Homo sapiens: one gene and its partners. The protein of the gene in region 1 purifies or fractionates together with the protein of each later gene. This does not show direct contact. Each region holds a gene or a part of one and is shown in the gene's direction. Other genes may lie near its edges.

Region 1 (5,642 bases):
TAGATTGGTACTTCCAAAGGTAGCAAACAAACTGTAATTGTATTTCCTCCTATTTCTGCCTGAGTAGGAACTTTTGAGTAAAAAGTTTTATTTACAAATAGAGTAAATGGAGACTGTCGGATTTAGATTTTTAAAGTGGCGATGATAGTTTTTTCTGATTCTGAGGTAGAGTTTGAGTATCCCTTATCTGAAATGCTTGGGACCAGAAGTGTTATGGATTTTAGATTTTTTTGGATTTTGGAATATTTGCATATACATAATGAGATATTTTGGGGATGGGACCCAAGTCTGAACGCAAAATTCATTTATATTTCATATGTACCTTATATGCATAGCCTGAAGGTAATGTTATACACTATTTTAAAGAATTTTGTGCATGAAACAAAAATTTTGACTGCATGTTGGCTGTGATGCATCACATGGGGTCAGGTATGGAATTTACCATTTGTGGTGTCATGTAGACACTCAGAACATTTCAGATTTTAGAGCATTTAAGACTTCAGATTTTTTATTAGGGACACTCAACCTGTATATATCAAGATTATTGTTTTGAGACATACAAATAGGAAAATCTTTAATTGCTTCATTGTAAAGATGGGTTCTATTTAGGTTGCCAGGTTTGGTCTTGAACTCCTGGCCTCAAGTCATTCTTCCAAAGTTTTGGGATTACAGGTGTGAGCCACCATGCCTGGCCATGAAAATCTTTAAAGTCCATCTCATCATGCTAGTATTTTTCAGTAGAACATTTAAGTTGCAGCCCCATGAAATGAGTAAGCTATTCTCTTGGAAGAGGAAGATGGGCATAAGCTCACTGAGAATAGTATAATACCATTTAGTAAATCATCATCATGTTCACTGGATTATATCTGATAGTAATAAGAAAATGTATTATTCTCCCATTCATTCAACCAATATGTATGGTTTATCAATTTTGTACCAAACATTGTTCTTGGCTTTGGTTATATAGCTAGGAACATGAGAGAGATCTCTGCCTTCATAGAACTGAGATTCTATAGGGTGGCCTAAATTTGGAAACATAGGTAATGTTGTTTTATTCAGGCATTATAATGTGAAAGCAATAATCCATTTATAATGTATTTGTCTATATTTCCAGACTTAGTGGCTACTCTAGAGTTGAACTTACTTGAGAACTGCCAAATTTTCATGAATCATCCCCCAAGCTTTAGGAACATTTGCTTGATTTTCTTTCTTTTAAGCTTGCTTAAAAGATTTATGTTAAATTTAAAAGAGATTTTGAATTTAGATTACAAATTACCTCTCTTTTCAGTGTTCTGGACCATCAATGGAGCCTACAATTCAAAATTCAGATATTGTCTTTGCAGAAAATCTTAGTCGACATTTTTATGGTATCCAAAGGTAAATTTCTGTCATGGATATATTAAATTTACAGTGAAAATACACACACACATTGTGGCTTTTCTGCAGTTCCTTAACTTTATCTTTAAAACCTCTTTCATAAATAAACATATTAATAACCAGCTAGATAAAATTTTGAGTCAAATATTCTCTTTCAGTTTGAGAAATTTTAATAGTTTCTCAAACATATGCAGTGTCTTGGGTCATTGTATCTCTTGCATCATTTTGAAAAATAATTAGCAGTCCCTTACAATATACATGTAAGCTTAACTTTTTTAATTGGGCTTTAGAATATTTTGAGTTAAGAACTAGGAACTTAGGGATTACATTACAGATCCAAATCAATGTTTTTGTTCTTTAATTTTAAAAATAATCCTGTAGTTCTATTGATTGCTATCTTACTTTATATGTAGTCTATGATGACCGTTTGATGGTTTTTATTTTTTTAAATTTTCTGATATACATTTTTTGGATGAGGTCTTGCTCTGGCTCCCAGGCTGGAGTGCAGTGACACGATCTCAGCTCCCTGCAGCCTCAACCTCCTGGGCTCCAGTGATCCTTCCCCTTAGTCTCCCAAGTAGCTGTGACTACAGGTGTATACTCGCCGCGCCCAGATAATTTTTGTAGTTTTTGTAGAGACTGGGTTTCGCCATGTTGCCCAGGCTGGTCTCAAACTCCTGAGCTCAAGCAATCCGCTCACCTCAGCCTCCCAAAGTGTTGGGATTACAGGTGTGAGCCACCGTGCCCAGCCCATTTGATGATTTTTAGATTACATCATTGTATATGGCTGAGAACCAGGAATTGTATATATTATGAGTCTCCTGATTAATTATATTAAGTTGAATAACTCCTGGGCAAATATTGTGTGTCACTAAACCTTTTAAAGTCCTATTTCACAGCAGGCTGAGGCAGGAGAATTGCTTGAACCTGGGAGATGGAGGTTGCAGTGAGCTGAGATCATGCCACTGCACTCCAGCCTGGGTGACAGAGCAAGACTCCATCTCACAAAAAAATAATAATGATAAAAAATCCTATTTCAAGTGGTGGTTCCAATCCTTGTGATACCCTTTATTCCAATTAACTCTATGAGAATGATTTATTCCAAATGAATGTCAAGTATTAATAATTTAATATATTTTCTAAAGAGCACCTCTCTGATACCCTAAAATTTTGAGTCCATTTGTTTTTTATAATTCTGAAAAAAATCTATGCCTGCTTTCATTTCAGTAAACTACAGATTTGATTCCCTTGAGCTAGTGTTTAGTTTATGGCATATTAAGTAGGTTTAGGCACTTCTCTTTCACTATTCACCTTTGCTATAACCTATTTCACATTACTGAAAATTGTTAAGAATACATTTCTTCACATTTACTGATCTTTCACCAGCCTTAGATTCTGCAGATAGAAACTCTCTTGGTCAACCTGTATGGTTTGGCATGCTCCCTAGGTAATTCTTCTTCAAATCTTTTACCCATAACAACTTCTATATACTTAATTGTAGATACAGGAATTATAAAATAAAACTTATATAATAGATTGTGTTGTTGCTCCCTTTTCTTTTTAACTTATATCAAATTATCCTTATATAGCCTTTGAATTAACTGGAGACCTAGCCCCACTGTAGCATGAAACCAAGCATCTGTGTTCCATGCCAGTGACATAATTTTATTCACAATAATCCTTGGGCATCCTGAATGAGGAGATGAACTTGTTGGCTGAATAGTTTTTGAATACACAGCTTGATATTTTTAAAAAAATTACTCGTTGCATTCAGATAAGTGAAACAAATAACTACATTCAGTAAATGAATTCAGATTCTTTGAAGATCTTATTTTGTACCCTATTCATCCAGGTTACAGGACAGCTCAAAATCTGGCATTTATGAGATATACCAAAGTAACTTTTAGAGCCAAGATAGCCAGCTGGTAACTTTTACTTAAGAAATATTACTGTCCTGAGTATTCTCTTTCTTTTACCCACAGCACAGAACTCAAGATTTCAGGGGAATCTTTGACCCCTGGCAAGGTGTCCTGTTGTTAGCTGCCTGTTTCTAAATGTAAAATAACCTTCCATTTAGGCAAGAATAAAAGTTTGCATATCTAGTATCTAAAGCACATGGATGTCTCTTCAGTCAACTGCACAGAACACTCAACCTTGAGACAGTCAGATTTTTACTATTGCTTATTCTTTCAACAAATAGTAGTGAGCACCTAATTTATAAGATGTACCATACATTATAGAGAATGTTAAGATTAATGAGATAATTGACACTAGTTTTCAAAAGCTTACTGTGTAGTAGAATAATAAGGATGTTTATAAATATAAATGAGAAAATTTTTAATAAGCTTCCTTTTAAAACTATTTGAAGGAGTTAAGAATCCAGCCGATATGTATTTTGATCTAAACGCTATGCATATATCTAGTTAGACTACCAGAAATAAAGTTTATTTATACTACTTTCTACAAAACAGCACGACTGAATTATGATTTCTATGTTGCCATTCGAGTGCAAAGTTTGTTTTAAGGGTCATATTGATTATTTGATCAAAGAACTTAAGCTTCATTAGACACCCATGGAAAAACGTCTCTTCCTCCAAAGCTACCCAAAATCAACTTTGATGGCGTGTTACAATCTTTGCAAATTTGTTCATCTGAACAGATCCACTGACATGGTTCTAGTTGGTTAGAAAGAAAATACCTTTATTCTGTTTTCAAAAGAAGGCAACACTGTGTTGCCTCCAAATTATAGAATGTAACGATTTGCTACCTTTCAACTCTTACCAAGAATAGCCTCAAGAGATCATCATTGTAAATACTATTTCTGCACTCTGTGTAAAATTTCTGATAAAGATGGTATCTTTTATTCTCTTATATAAGAAAGTTTCTTGTGAATTTCTCTTTGATTTAGTTGTTAGGGAAAATTTTGTCTTACCTCCCAAGCTAAATGTTATTTTATTAATTAATGATTTCCATGTAACTGGTCTTAATTTCTTCTGACTTGGCTCCCAAAGAGTTTAGAACCCATTTTAATGCTTCTATAGAGCAGTTATTAGGTTTCTGATTTCTTCATAATTTTCCTTTTATTCTTATGACTTTTAATATTATTTTGACATATGCTTCATTAAACTATTTCTGGAACTAGGTACAATTAATAAGCAAATATGTTAAATCCTTTTAAACGTGTGTTAGTCAACAGAATTCACATATTGCTCGTTTTATGCAGAAAGAGTATTGTGTTCTGTTTGACTGTGGTCATTAGTCCTACGTTCTATCTTTCTTCCTTTTCACTTTTTAGGATCTTTCTTATTTTTTATTACCAGATAGATTGTCAGTTCTTCCATAAATCATGACTTCTGTATGTAATCAGACCCTTATTGGTTTTATATGTTTGATATCTCATTTTATTTTTCAGAGTGTATATTTAGGCAGCTTTTAGCATTTTATTTTGTTGTATCTTTTGATTTTTTTTCTCAAATATAAGTTCTTTTGATATGGGTTATAGGACTTACATGCTATCATTCCTCAATTATTTGAGTTCTAGGGAAACATGGATGATGCTTTTACCTTTTTAGTGTGCTCTAGAGTCAATCAGTGCTACTGGCTGGACCGCAATATTTATTTACTTAATTTGTTAGTATTTATATAGAATTGTGTGGAGGGTTTTTTTTTCTTTTTTTGGTTCACTTGGGGTTTTTCTTGGTTTGTTTGTTTTGTGTGTGTGGTTTTTTTTTTTTTTTTTTTTTTTTTTTGGAGACATGGTCTCAGTCTGTTGCCCATGGTGGCACGATCTTAGCCTCACTGCAACCGTGAACTCCTGGCTTCAAGCAATCCTCTTGCCGTAGCCTCCCAAAGTGCTGAGATTATAGTTGTGAGCCACTGTACCCGGCCTATGTAGAATTGTTTTTCCACAATTTTGGTTCTAAGAATTTGGACACAGGAGTAAAGCATACTGGATACAATGCAAAAGATAATTCTTGTAGAATTATCTGAAAGTTTAGAATCTTCTGAAATTATCAGAAATTTTAGATAGCCTTTTTATCACTCTTATTGTTGGATTCTCACCTAAAGTATTCAGTCACAAAGGTTCTCAAAGCCAGTAAATGTGTGGAAGAGTAAGTATATGAGAGGATAAAGGTTATGGCTTTGTTTAAGTTGTCTTATAAAAGTATTAAAGCAGTGCCATGCATGTGTTTTTGCTTAATAAATAATACAGACATTTCTTTGACTTTTCCCCCTCAGAGGTGACATTGTGATTGCAAAAAGCC
Region 2 (3,604 bases), on another chromosome or scaffold:
TTGGGAATCCTCCAGCCTTGAATTGTCTTTCTGTCTTCCTTTACAGATTCAGAGACCAAGTGCTATGAAAACCTTTCTTTGCCCACACTAAGACTAAGGCTATTTAGACCTGATATATTACTTTTCTAGGGCTACTGTAAAAAATCACCGTAAACTTGGTAGTTTGAAACAACAGAAATTTATTCTCTCAAGTGCTGGAAGCTAGAAGTCTAAATTCATCGTACTGGCAGGACCATGTTTTCCTGAAGGTTTTATGGGAGAATCCTTACTTGCCTCTTTCTAGCTTTTGGTGGCTCCTGGAAATCCTTGGCATTCCTTGGTTTATAACTGCGTTACTCCACTCTCTGCCTGTCTTGTCACATGGCCTTCTTTAGATCTTACTTGTTTTTTCGAGACAATCTCACTTTCTCACTCAGGTTGATGTGCAGTGGCATGCTTTCAGCTCACTGCCACCTCTGTGTCCTGGGTTCAAGTGATTCTTGTGCCTTAGCCTCCTGAGCAGATGGGATTACAGGCATACACCACCACACCCAGCTAATTTTTTTTTTTTTGAGACACAGTCTCACTCTGTTGCCCAGGCTGGAGTGCAGTGGTGTGATCTCAGCTCACTGCAACCTCTGCCTCCTGGGTTCAAGCAATTCTCTTGCCTCAGCCTCCCAAGTAGCTGGGATTACAGGATACACACCACTACTCCTGGCTAATTTTTGTATTTTTAGTAGAGATGGGGTTTCACCATGTTGGCCAGGCTGGTCTTGAACTCCTGACCTCAGGTGATCTGCCCACCTTAGCCTCCCAAAGTGCTGGAATTACAGGCGTGAGCCCTCACTGTGTCAGGCCATAATTTTTTTATTTTTTATTTTATTTTTATTTTTTTTTTAAGACGGAGTCTCGCTCTGTTGCCCAGGCTGGAGTACAGTGGCACGATCTTGGCTCACTGCAAGCTCTGCCTCCTGGGTTCATGGGTTCTCCTGCCTCAGTCTCTCGAGTAGCTGGGACTACAGGCGCCTGCCACCATGCCCAGCTAATTTTTTGTATTTTTAGTAGAGATGGGGTTTCACCATATTAGCCAGGACGGTCTCGATCTCCTGACCTCGTGATCCACCTGCCTTGGCCTCCCAAAATGCTGGGTTTACAGGCATGAGCCACCGCACCCGGCCTATTTTTTATTTTTAATAGAGACAGGGTTTCACCATGTTGGCCAGGCTGGTCTCAAACTCCCAGCCCCAAGTGATCCACCTGCCTAGGCCTCCCAAAGTGTTGGGATTATAGGTGTGAGCCACCGTACCCAGCCACCTTCTTTAGGTCTTAAATGTCTCTCTGTGAATCCTCTTTTTTTTTTTTTTTTTTTTTTTTTTATTGGAGGGACTGGTTCTTTATTTCAAAAAGACACTTGTCAATATTCAGTATCAAAGCAGGTGGACTATTGATTTCTGTTTCTCCCAATCGGCCCCAAAGAGACTATATCAAAGGACAGTACGTTTTAAGCCAGTATGCTGCAGGATGTACACCTGACAGACTTTACAGAAACCTTATCGGAAAGTGGGGATTGGGTAGGGAAAGAAACTTTAAAAGATCAGCAAACTGCCAGCCCGGCCAGGCACGGTGGCTCACCCCTGTAATCCCAGCGCTTTGGGAGGCTGAAGCGGACATATCACGAGGTCAGGAGTTCGAGACCTGCCTGGCCAACATGGTGAAACCCTGTGTCTACTAAAAATACAAAAAATTAGCCAGGTGTGGTGGTAGGTGCCTGTAATCCCAGCTACTCTGGAGGGTGAGGCAGGAGAATCACTTGAACCTGGGAGGCAGAGGTTGCAGTGAGCTGAGACTGCACCACTGCACTCCATCCTGGGCAACAGAGCGAGAGTCCATCTCAAAAAAAAAAAAAAAATCTGCCAGCTCACAGACTGTAGAGGGCTGTCACAGTCAAACTGGGTGGCCAGGGTGCCACCCAAAGAAGCAAAGTTTCAAAATAATACAAAAATTTAAAAAAGTTTTGTACATAAGCTATTTAAGATTTCTCTAGCATTAACTGATATTAAGCACAATGAGATGGCACTTTTAGAGACAGCAGCTTCAAACCCAGAAAAGGGTAATGAGATGAGTTTCACATGGCTGAATCAGTGGCAAAAACATAATCTTCTTTCTATCCTCCTCTAAGAACACCAGTGCTCCCTAATGCAGTGTGACCTCATCTAAACTTGATTACATCTGCAGAGGCCTGATTCCCAAGTAAGGTCACATTCACTAGTGCTGGGGGTTAGATCTTCTTGGGGACACAGTTCAACCCACTACACCTGGTTTCCTCCAGATTACCTGGAGACCATTTTAAGATTCATGGCATGAAAGATTATGGATCTAAACTTCAAATGTAGAATTCTAGATATAATCTGTTCATCTTTTCTTTGACGTGAAAAGAGGTAGAAGTGGCATAATTTGGAGTCTGATTAAGATTTTACAGTCCGTGCTTTTTTTTGCCAGGAGAATCCCAGAGCACGCCTTTGATACCTGGAAGGTGACTACTCTTTTTTATTTTATTTTTTTTTGTGAGACAGAGTCTCGCTTTGTTGCCCAGGCTGGAGTGCAGTGGCACAATCTCGGTTCACTACAGCCTCCGCTTTAGCTTAGGTTCAAATGATTCTCCCACCTCAGCCTCCCAAGTAGCTGGGATTACAGGCTCACACCACTGTGCCCTGCTAATTTTTTTGTATTTTTAATAGAGATGGGGTTTCACCATGCAGGCCAGGCTGGTCTTGAATTCCTGACCTCAAGTGATCCTCTCGTCTCTGCCTCCCAAACTGTTGGGATTACAGGCGTGAGCAACCACGCCCAGCCAAGTTGACTACTCTTTTATTTTTTGAGACGGAGTCTCGCTCTGTCACCCAGGCTGGAGTGCAGTGGCACGATCTCGGCTCACTGCAACCTCTGCCTCCCAGGTTCAAGCGATTCTCCTGCCTCAGCCTCCTGAGTAGCTGGGATTATGGGCACACACCACCATGCCCGGCTGATTTTTGCATTTTTAGTAGAGACGAGGTTTCACCATGTTGGTCAGGCTGGTCTCGAACTCCTGACCTCGTGATTTGCCTGCCTCAGCCTCGCAAAGTGCTGGGATTACAGGTGTGAGCCACTGTGGCTGGCAAGGTGACTACTCTTATTGCCACCTGTTGCTGCAGATTTAGTATTTTCTGGAAGTTTAGAGCATTTTTAGGATTTTCACAGTACTTTTTAATTATGTCTAATTTGGTGTTTTTTTTTTTAAAGTTATAAAGATGCTTCAGACTGCAAAGAATTTGTTGAAAGAGGAGAAATTGGTGCATAGCTATCCGTATGACTGGAGGACCAAGAAACCTGTGGTTATTCGTGCCAGCAAGCAGTGGTTTATAAACATCACGGATATTAAGACTGCAGCCAAGGTATAAAAAGCATCCTGTTTTAACAGGTCGGGCATATCATTCCCTCAGTATAAAGGGGCTGCATGTGAGGTTGAGGTGGGGTTTCAGGAGTAATAGGGATTGCTGCTATTATGATTTAGTTTCATAACATTGTAGAATTTTAGATCTGGAAGGACCTTGGACTTCCATTTTTTCATTATACATGTGTGAGAAAT
Region 3 (3,604 bases), on another chromosome or scaffold:
TGACATCCATGAACAATGTTACATTATTTATTCAGATCTTCCTTTAAGTCCCTTAGTGGAACTTTAAGATGGTGTATATGCTAGGTGCTGTACTAGGAGCTGAGGATATAGAAATTAATCAAACATGCCTTCTACCTGAAAAAACTAAGACCATTATAAGAAATAAACATATAAACTAGAAAGTTTAATAAAGTATTTTAAATGCTGTGATAGGGATGTATACAGGGCATGGATGGGACAATAAGGACAAAATGATAAAATAGAACTGAATCTGACAATTGATGTGAATCATAGGAGTTTTGTGGAGCTCTTATGTTTTTAAAACATATTTTTCTTGGCCCACTGTTCTATAAGTAACTGACTAGAAACATTGAATAAATGAATGGAGAATACCTTAATAGTTTATAGCATATTTATTCTGACATAAAGTAACAATTATTTTTAACTCCTCTAGTCATTCATTATACTTTATAGCAACTACATAAAACCTGCCAGACTAACAAAACAAAATTCACCTTACAAAATGAGTTAGTATGACAAGCATAGATGATATGGAAATTTACAAGAGAATAACCGTATGTCTTGTACATTTTTTTTGTTTTTTTACTGACAGTTTGGTTGCTGTGTGTCTTTCACTTCCAGCTGAAGCAGAATGACAGTGATTTTTAAAACAGTTTTATTGAGGTACAGTCGACGTATTACACACTATATATATTTGAAGTGTAAACTTTGATGTGTGTTGATATATGTACACACCCTGAAACTGTCACCATAAGTTCAAGATAATGAATTTATCACCCCCATAAGTTTTGTGGTGCCCTTTCGTAATCCCTTCCTTCTTTTCTTTTCCAAGTAGTCACAGATGAGTTTGCATTATCTAGAAATTTATGTCAGTATATCATAAATCATGCAGTACTCTCTTTTGAGATTTGTCCATGTTGTATATATCAATAGTTCATTCTTTTTATTGCTGAGTACTAAGTGTCCATTTTGCAGTATTCCATAGTTCATTTATTCACCTGGTGATGGAAATGTGGGTTTCCAATTTGAGGCTATTAAATAAAGTTGTTTTTAATATTCTTATGCAAGTCTTTGAATGAACATGTGGTTTCTTTTCTCTTGGGTGGCAAGCCATTTACTTGCCAGTGGAATGGCTGGATCAGATGTAGGTATGTGTTTTACTTTTTAAGAAGCTGCCCCAACTGTTTTCCAAAGTGCTTGTACCTACAGTTCTACATACCTATGAGCAGTGTGTGAGAGTTCTATTTCCTCCACATTCTTGTCAGCATTTGCTATGGTCTGTCTTTTAAATTTTGGCAATTCCAATAGATGTTAAGTGGTATCTTACTGTGGCTTAAATTTGCATTTCCCTTATGACTAGTGGTGTAGGGCATCTTTTCATATGCTTATTTGCCATCCATATGTCTTTTTTTTGCTAAGTGACCATCCATATAGTTTTCCCATTTGTAATGGATTATTTGCTTTCTTACTGCGTTTTGAGAGTGTATGTTTGTATATTCATACACAGTCATGTGATTTATTATATATATGATGGTAGTCCCATAAGATTATAATGGACCTGAAAAGTTTCTCTTGCCCAGTGACGTTGTGTTTGTGGTGATGCCAGTATAAACAACAAACCTGGGCTGCCAGTTACACAACAATGTAGCACATACCATTGCATACATCACATAATATTTATAAACGATCATAAAACGACTTTGTTACTGGTTTATGTATTTACTATAGTATACTTGTTATTGTTATTTTAGAGTATACTGCTTATACTTCTAAAAAGAATGTTAACTGTAAAACAGCCTCAGGCAAGTCCTTCAAGAATTATCCAGAAGAAGGCATTATCATCACAGGAAATGACAGGTTCATGTATGTTATTAATATTTCCCCTGAAGACCTTCCAGTGGGGCAAGATGTGGAGATGGAAGACAGTGACATTGATGATCCCAACCCTGTGTAGGCCTAGGCTAATGTGTGTGTTTGTGTCTTAGGTTTTAACAAGAAAGTTTACCAACAAAAATTTTTTAATTGGAAAAAGCTTATAGAATGAGGATATAAAGAAGGAAAATATTTTTGTACAGCTGTATGGTGTGTTGTATTTTCAGCTTAGTGTTATTACAAAAGAGGTAAAACGTTAGAGATTAAAAAGTTTATAAAGTAAAAAAGTTACAGTAAGGTAAGGTTAATTTATTGTTGAAGAAAGAAACATTTTAACAGTAAATTTAGTGTAGCCTGTTGATGAAGTCCTCAATAGCCTACAGGAATGCCCCGTGGCTTACCTTTTCATGCTCTTTAACCCTGTGTTTCAAAGAGCAGACGTTTTACATTTTGAACATGTCCAATTTGTCAGTTTGTTCTTTTATAGATTGGGATTTTAGTGTCTTATCTAAGAAACCATTGCCTCACCTAAGGTCACAAATATTTTCTCTCATGTTTTCTTCTAGCAGTTTTATAGCTTTGGGTTTTACATTTAGGTAAAAGGTCCCATTTTGAGTTAGTTTTTGTATATGGTTCATGATTATAGATTCAAATTCTTTAAAAAAAAAAAAAGCTATCCAGTTGTGCCAGCACCATTTGTTGAAAAGACTGACCTGTCTTCAATTGAATTGTCTTCGTATCTCTGTTCACGTGTAAGTGGATCTATTTCTGGACTCTTTTTTTCTGTTCAGTTGATCTGTTATCATCATGTCATTTTCACACTGTCTTAATTACTGTAGCTTTATAGTAAGCCTTGAAATTGTGTAGTGTTAGCCATACCACTTTGTTCTTATTCAAAGTTGTTTTGGCTATTTGAAGACATTTGCATTTCCATATGAATTTTAGAATCACCTTTTCAGTTTCTACATTAAAGTCTGCTGTGATTTTGTTTGGAATTATGTTGTATCACTGGATGAATTTGGGGAATAATTGACAATAAAAAGAAAATTCTGGGTACATTTACACAATCGTCATCTGCAAATAAAGGTAGTTTTACTTCTTTTTTAATCCTTTTTTATTCTTTTTACCTTACTGCACTAGTTATAACCTTGAGTGCAATGTTGACTAGAAGTGGTGACAGTGAACATCTTTGTGTTATTCATGATTTTAGAGAGAAATAATTCAATCCTTCACCGTTAAGTGTGCTATTAGATTTAGGGGTTTTTTTGTGGGGTTTTTTGTAAATGCCCTTATCAGGTTGAGGAAGTTCCCTTCTGTTTCAAATTTGCTGAGAAATTTTTGGTTTTTCATGTTTTTAAATCAGAAATGGATGTTAGATTTTGTCAAATACTTTCACTTTTTTTTTTTTTTTTTTGAGACAGAGTCTCAACTCTGTCACCTAGGCTGGAGTGCAGTGGCTCAGACTCGGCTCACTGCAACCTCTGCCTCCCGGGTTCAAGCGATTCTCTTGCCTGAGCCTCCTGAGTAGCTGCATGCCACCACGCCCAGCTAATTTTTTGTATTTTTAGCAGAGACAGAATTTCACTGTGTTAGCCAGGATGGTCTTGATCTCCTGACCTCGTGATCCACCCGCCTTGGCTTCCTGAAGTGCTGGGATTACAGACGTGAGCCACGGCACCCGGCCCTTTTGCTTTTTATAAATTGATACATA
Region 4 (3,604 bases), on another chromosome or scaffold:
CTCAGCTCATTAATTTATTCTCCATTGCATCAGCCAACAACGTGGAGTCCTAACTTGGGGAAATTTGCCCCCTCTTGGAGCTCCCTGAGTCAGTTGATACAGAATACAGCCATGGGAAGGTCTTCAGTCCCCCTGGAACCCTGATGGCAAACCACAGAGGGAAGGCACACAGTGAAGTCACTGTGCTATCTGATACCATTGGGACATGCAGCCCCATGTTTCCCCTGGTGTTGTGAAATGTGCCCATTAAAGCTTTTGCAAAGCATATTACCCTCGTGGTCACATGCAGACCAAATAACAAAGCGGAAGAAAAGTGAAGCTGTTGCGGCAGTTCTGCATCCATGTGTGCTTCTGAACAGAGGAATCGTCTGCACCTTTGGCCTTGGGCTCACAGTGCGTTCTTTAGGCTGCTGCCATTGGCACTTCCTGTTGTTTTGATTCATTCATTACCAGCAAATACCATTTTTAGGCACCCTTGACAGCGACAGACACAGCCATCCTCTCTGGAAGCCTCTCAACCCAGAATGGAAATGGAGGAGGTTCCATTAACTTTGCGCTCAGACGAGTAACTTCGGCAAAGGGATGGGGAGAGGTAAGAATGTCTATTGGCTGAGTTGTGTTGTCTGTGCAAAGCCTTATTTCTGAACATTTACACTCTCAAAGCTCACCCTCAAACTCACCCTGGGGGCCCCGTTGTTGTGTAAGAACGGTACCAAGTGTCAAGCTTCCATAAGTTGACTGGTCCTAAAAGAAAAATAGGTCTCATGAGCCTGGCCAACATGGTGAAACCCCGTCTCTACTAAAAATACAAAACTTAGCTGGGCATGGTGGCACCTGCCTGTAATCCCAGCTACTTGGGAGGCTGAGGCAGGAGAATCACGAGAATCACATGAACCCAGGAGGCAGAGGTTGCAGCGAGTCAAGATCGCGCCGTTGCACTCCAGTCTGGGGGACAAGAGCAAAATTCCGTCTCAAAAATAAATAAATAAATAGGTCTCATATCTGAGAAGTCCTGTCAGTCTTCCTCACAGTTTAAAATTGGCATAGAAAAACAAGGTTTCCTATGAGATGCCAACTTCTAGAAATCCAGCCTCTGAAACTCCGTGTGTTTGTTCCCTTTGAGCAAAAAGCCTGTGGGCTCTTTTTCCTGCACAATTCAGAAGGCAGGTGCTCTCTTCCGCGTGATGGTTCACTGATTGGTGGCCATTTAACAGCCAGTTCTGCCGAGCAAATTGAGCTGCATCAAATTAACATTGAAGAGTTGCTTGAAAGTCACCCAGACTAGTAAACACGGCAGCCAGGCTCAGCTGTGACTTCCAAGGCTGTGCGGGTGTGGAACCGCGGCTGGGCTTTAACATCAGGCTCCTGAGGACCGCCCCAGTGACCTGGGAGACATTTGGCGCAGGATGAAAATGAAAAGGAGTCGGCAGTGCATGCGGGGGTGGGGGGCACACCGGACCGCAGTCGGTGCTCTGCAGGTGGCGGGGGGCTGCGCCGGGAGGGGTAGGGGGAGCCAGCTGGTCTCCTGACCTCAGCCTGGGAGGCAAGGAACAGAGGGGAGCAGTTTTTTCTTTGGAGGGACACCAATGAAACATGTGCCTTTGAAGCCTGGGTCTCCTTTGGATCTGTGGCAGCAGACAGCTCCATTTGGCAAAGGTTAAGATGAGACATTAACAATCTTCCACCCCCTTCTTTTAGAGCCCTGGCAAGACCAGTGAATTGAATGAAGGAATTATACCTAGAGGTACATACCTGAGCCTGGGTTGCTGCTATGAGATAAAACACCATTAATGCCTTCTCTTTTTCCTTTTCAAACAGTTGGAATTTGGAGCTGGAGACCTACAGGGGCCTTTGTTCGGTCTCAAGCTGTTCCGTAATCTCACACCAAGATGGTAAATATGAGAGACAGCAGCTCCTCTTTGGTGGTCTTTGTTGGCTTAGGAGACTAGAACTGTGTGTTCTTTTTATCACAGTGGTTGGCACTATCTTGTCTGTCCTACAAGGTCACTGCGTACATCAAGGGCAGGTATAGCACTGGCGTGAAGCCCAGGCAGTGTGCAGGTGGGAAGAGGCAGGATTGAGGGGGCCGGACCCTTGTCCCAGCCCTGGCCAGGCTGCACCATCCAGGTCTCGCACCTCCCTTACCTATGCCACAAGGCCACGGAGAAAGAGTGCCTTCAGGGAGAGTTGGTCAGTGGACCGAAACACTTACAGACTTATGGATCGTTCCATTGTCCCAGAGAATGACAGACTGCCTCATCATCGGGTTGATTGACATATGCCAGAGATGTAGTCCCCAGCCAGCCTCTGCTTCCTGTCGTCTCTGCTGCTGCCATGTCACACTCCTAGAACTGTATATCCCTGTCCCTTCTAGAACGACAGCAGTGTCTTCATTTCCTATATGGTGGGTGCAGTGATGTCTGTGTGAGCTCAGATAAAAGAATTGGTGGAGGGTAAATAATACCTCTTTCTTCCAGAGGAAGATATAGCTGAAGGAGTCCTAGAATGGAGCACATGGAGTTTATTTTATTTATTTATTTATTTTGGAGACAGGGTCTTGCTCTGTCTTGCCCAGCCTGGAGTGCGGTGGTGTGATCTCGGCTCACTGCAGCCTCTGCCTCCTGGGTTCAAGCTATTCTCCTGTCTCAACCTTCCGAGTAGCTGGGACTACAGGCGTGTGCCACCACACCCAGCTATTTTTGTATTTTTAATAGAGATGGGGTTTCACCATGTTGGTCAGGCTGGTCTCGAACTCCTGACCTCAGGTGATCCACCTGCCTCGGCCTCCCAAAGTGGTGAGATTACAGGCGTGAGCCACCACGCCTGGCCTATTTTATTTTACTTTATTTTTGTTAGAGACGAGGTTTTGTTCTGTTGCCTAGGCTAGAGTGCAATAGTCCGATCATAGTCCACTGCAGCCTTGAACTCCTGGGGTCAAGCAGTCCTCCTCCCTCAGCCTCCCGAAAAACTAGGACTACAGGCGTGTGCCAACATGCCTGGCTCATTGTTTAGTTTTTTTTAGGGATAAGTTATCTCTATGTTGCCTAGGCTGGTCTCAAGCTCCTGGATTCAAGCAGTCCTCCCACCTTGGCCTCCCAAAGCACTGAGATTAGAAGCATGAGCCACTTCAGCAAGCCTGGAGTATATGTTTTTTGTTTTGAGACAGGTCTCACTTTGTCACCCCGGCTGGAGAATAGTGATGCAATCTTGGCTCACTGCACCCTCAACCTCCCAGGCTCAGGTGACCCTCCTGAGTAGCTGGGACTACAGGTGTGCACCACCATGCCTGACTAATTTTTGTAGAGTTGGGGTTTCTCCTTGTTGGCCAGGCTGGTCTCTTAACTCCTGACCTCAGGTGATCCTCCCACCTTGGCCTCCCAAAGTGCTGGCATTACAGGTGTGAGCCACTGTGCCCAGGCACAGTGGCATGAATAACTTTCTTATCAAACATGTATTGTAGGCTGTACAAACATGTACAAACATGTACAGGAGTTCGAGACCAGCCTGGCCAACATGGCGAAACCCCCTCTACTAAAAATATAAAAATTAACCAGGCATGGTGGCGCTTGCCTGTAGTCCCAGCTACTTGGGAGGCTGAGGTGGG

The links. The genes of interacting proteins can lie anywhere in the genome.
Region 2: the proteins of IMMP1L (region 1) and IARS2 purify together in Homo sapiens (affinity purification with mass spectrometry; one large-scale study listed by BioGRID and IntAct). This does not show direct contact.
Region 3: the proteins of IMMP1L (region 1) and MTMR9 purify together in Homo sapiens (affinity purification with mass spectrometry; one large-scale study listed by BioGRID and IntAct). This does not show direct contact.
Region 4: the proteins of IMMP1L (region 1) and DNAJC11 purify together in Homo sapiens (affinity purification with mass spectrometry; one large-scale study listed by BioGRID and IntAct). This does not show direct contact.

The regions. Positions count from the first base shown.
Region 1 is NC_000011.10:31,456,361-31,462,002, reverse strand, and holds part of IMMP1L (mitochondrial inner membrane protease subunit 1), read left to right. Parts: intron 1-1,288; coding exon 1,289-1,377; intron 1,378-5,616; coding exon 5,617-5,642. UniProt on the Homo sapiens protein: Catalyzes the removal of transit peptides required for the targeting of proteins from the mitochondrial matrix, across the inner membrane, into the inter-membrane space. Known to process the nuclear encoded protein DIABLO.
Region 2 is NC_000001.11:220,107,528-220,111,131, forward strand, and holds part of IARS2 (isoleucine--tRNA ligase, mitochondrial precursor), read left to right. Parts: intron 1-3,258; coding exon 3,259-3,410; intron 3,411-3,604.
Region 3 is NC_000008.11:11,291,212-11,294,815, forward strand, and holds part of MTMR9 (myotubularin-related protein 9), read left to right. Parts: intron 1-3,604. UniProt on the Homo sapiens protein: Acts as an adapter for myotubularin-related phosphatases. Increases lipid phosphatase MTMR6 catalytic activity, specifically towards phosphatidylinositol 3,5-bisphosphate and MTMR6 binding affinity for phosphorylated phosphatidylinositols.
Region 4 is NC_000001.11:6,649,817-6,653,420, reverse strand, and holds part of DNAJC11 (dnaJ homolog subfamily C member 11), read left to right. Parts: intron 1-469; coding exon 470-592; intron 593-1,818; coding exon 1,819-1,892; intron 1,893-3,604.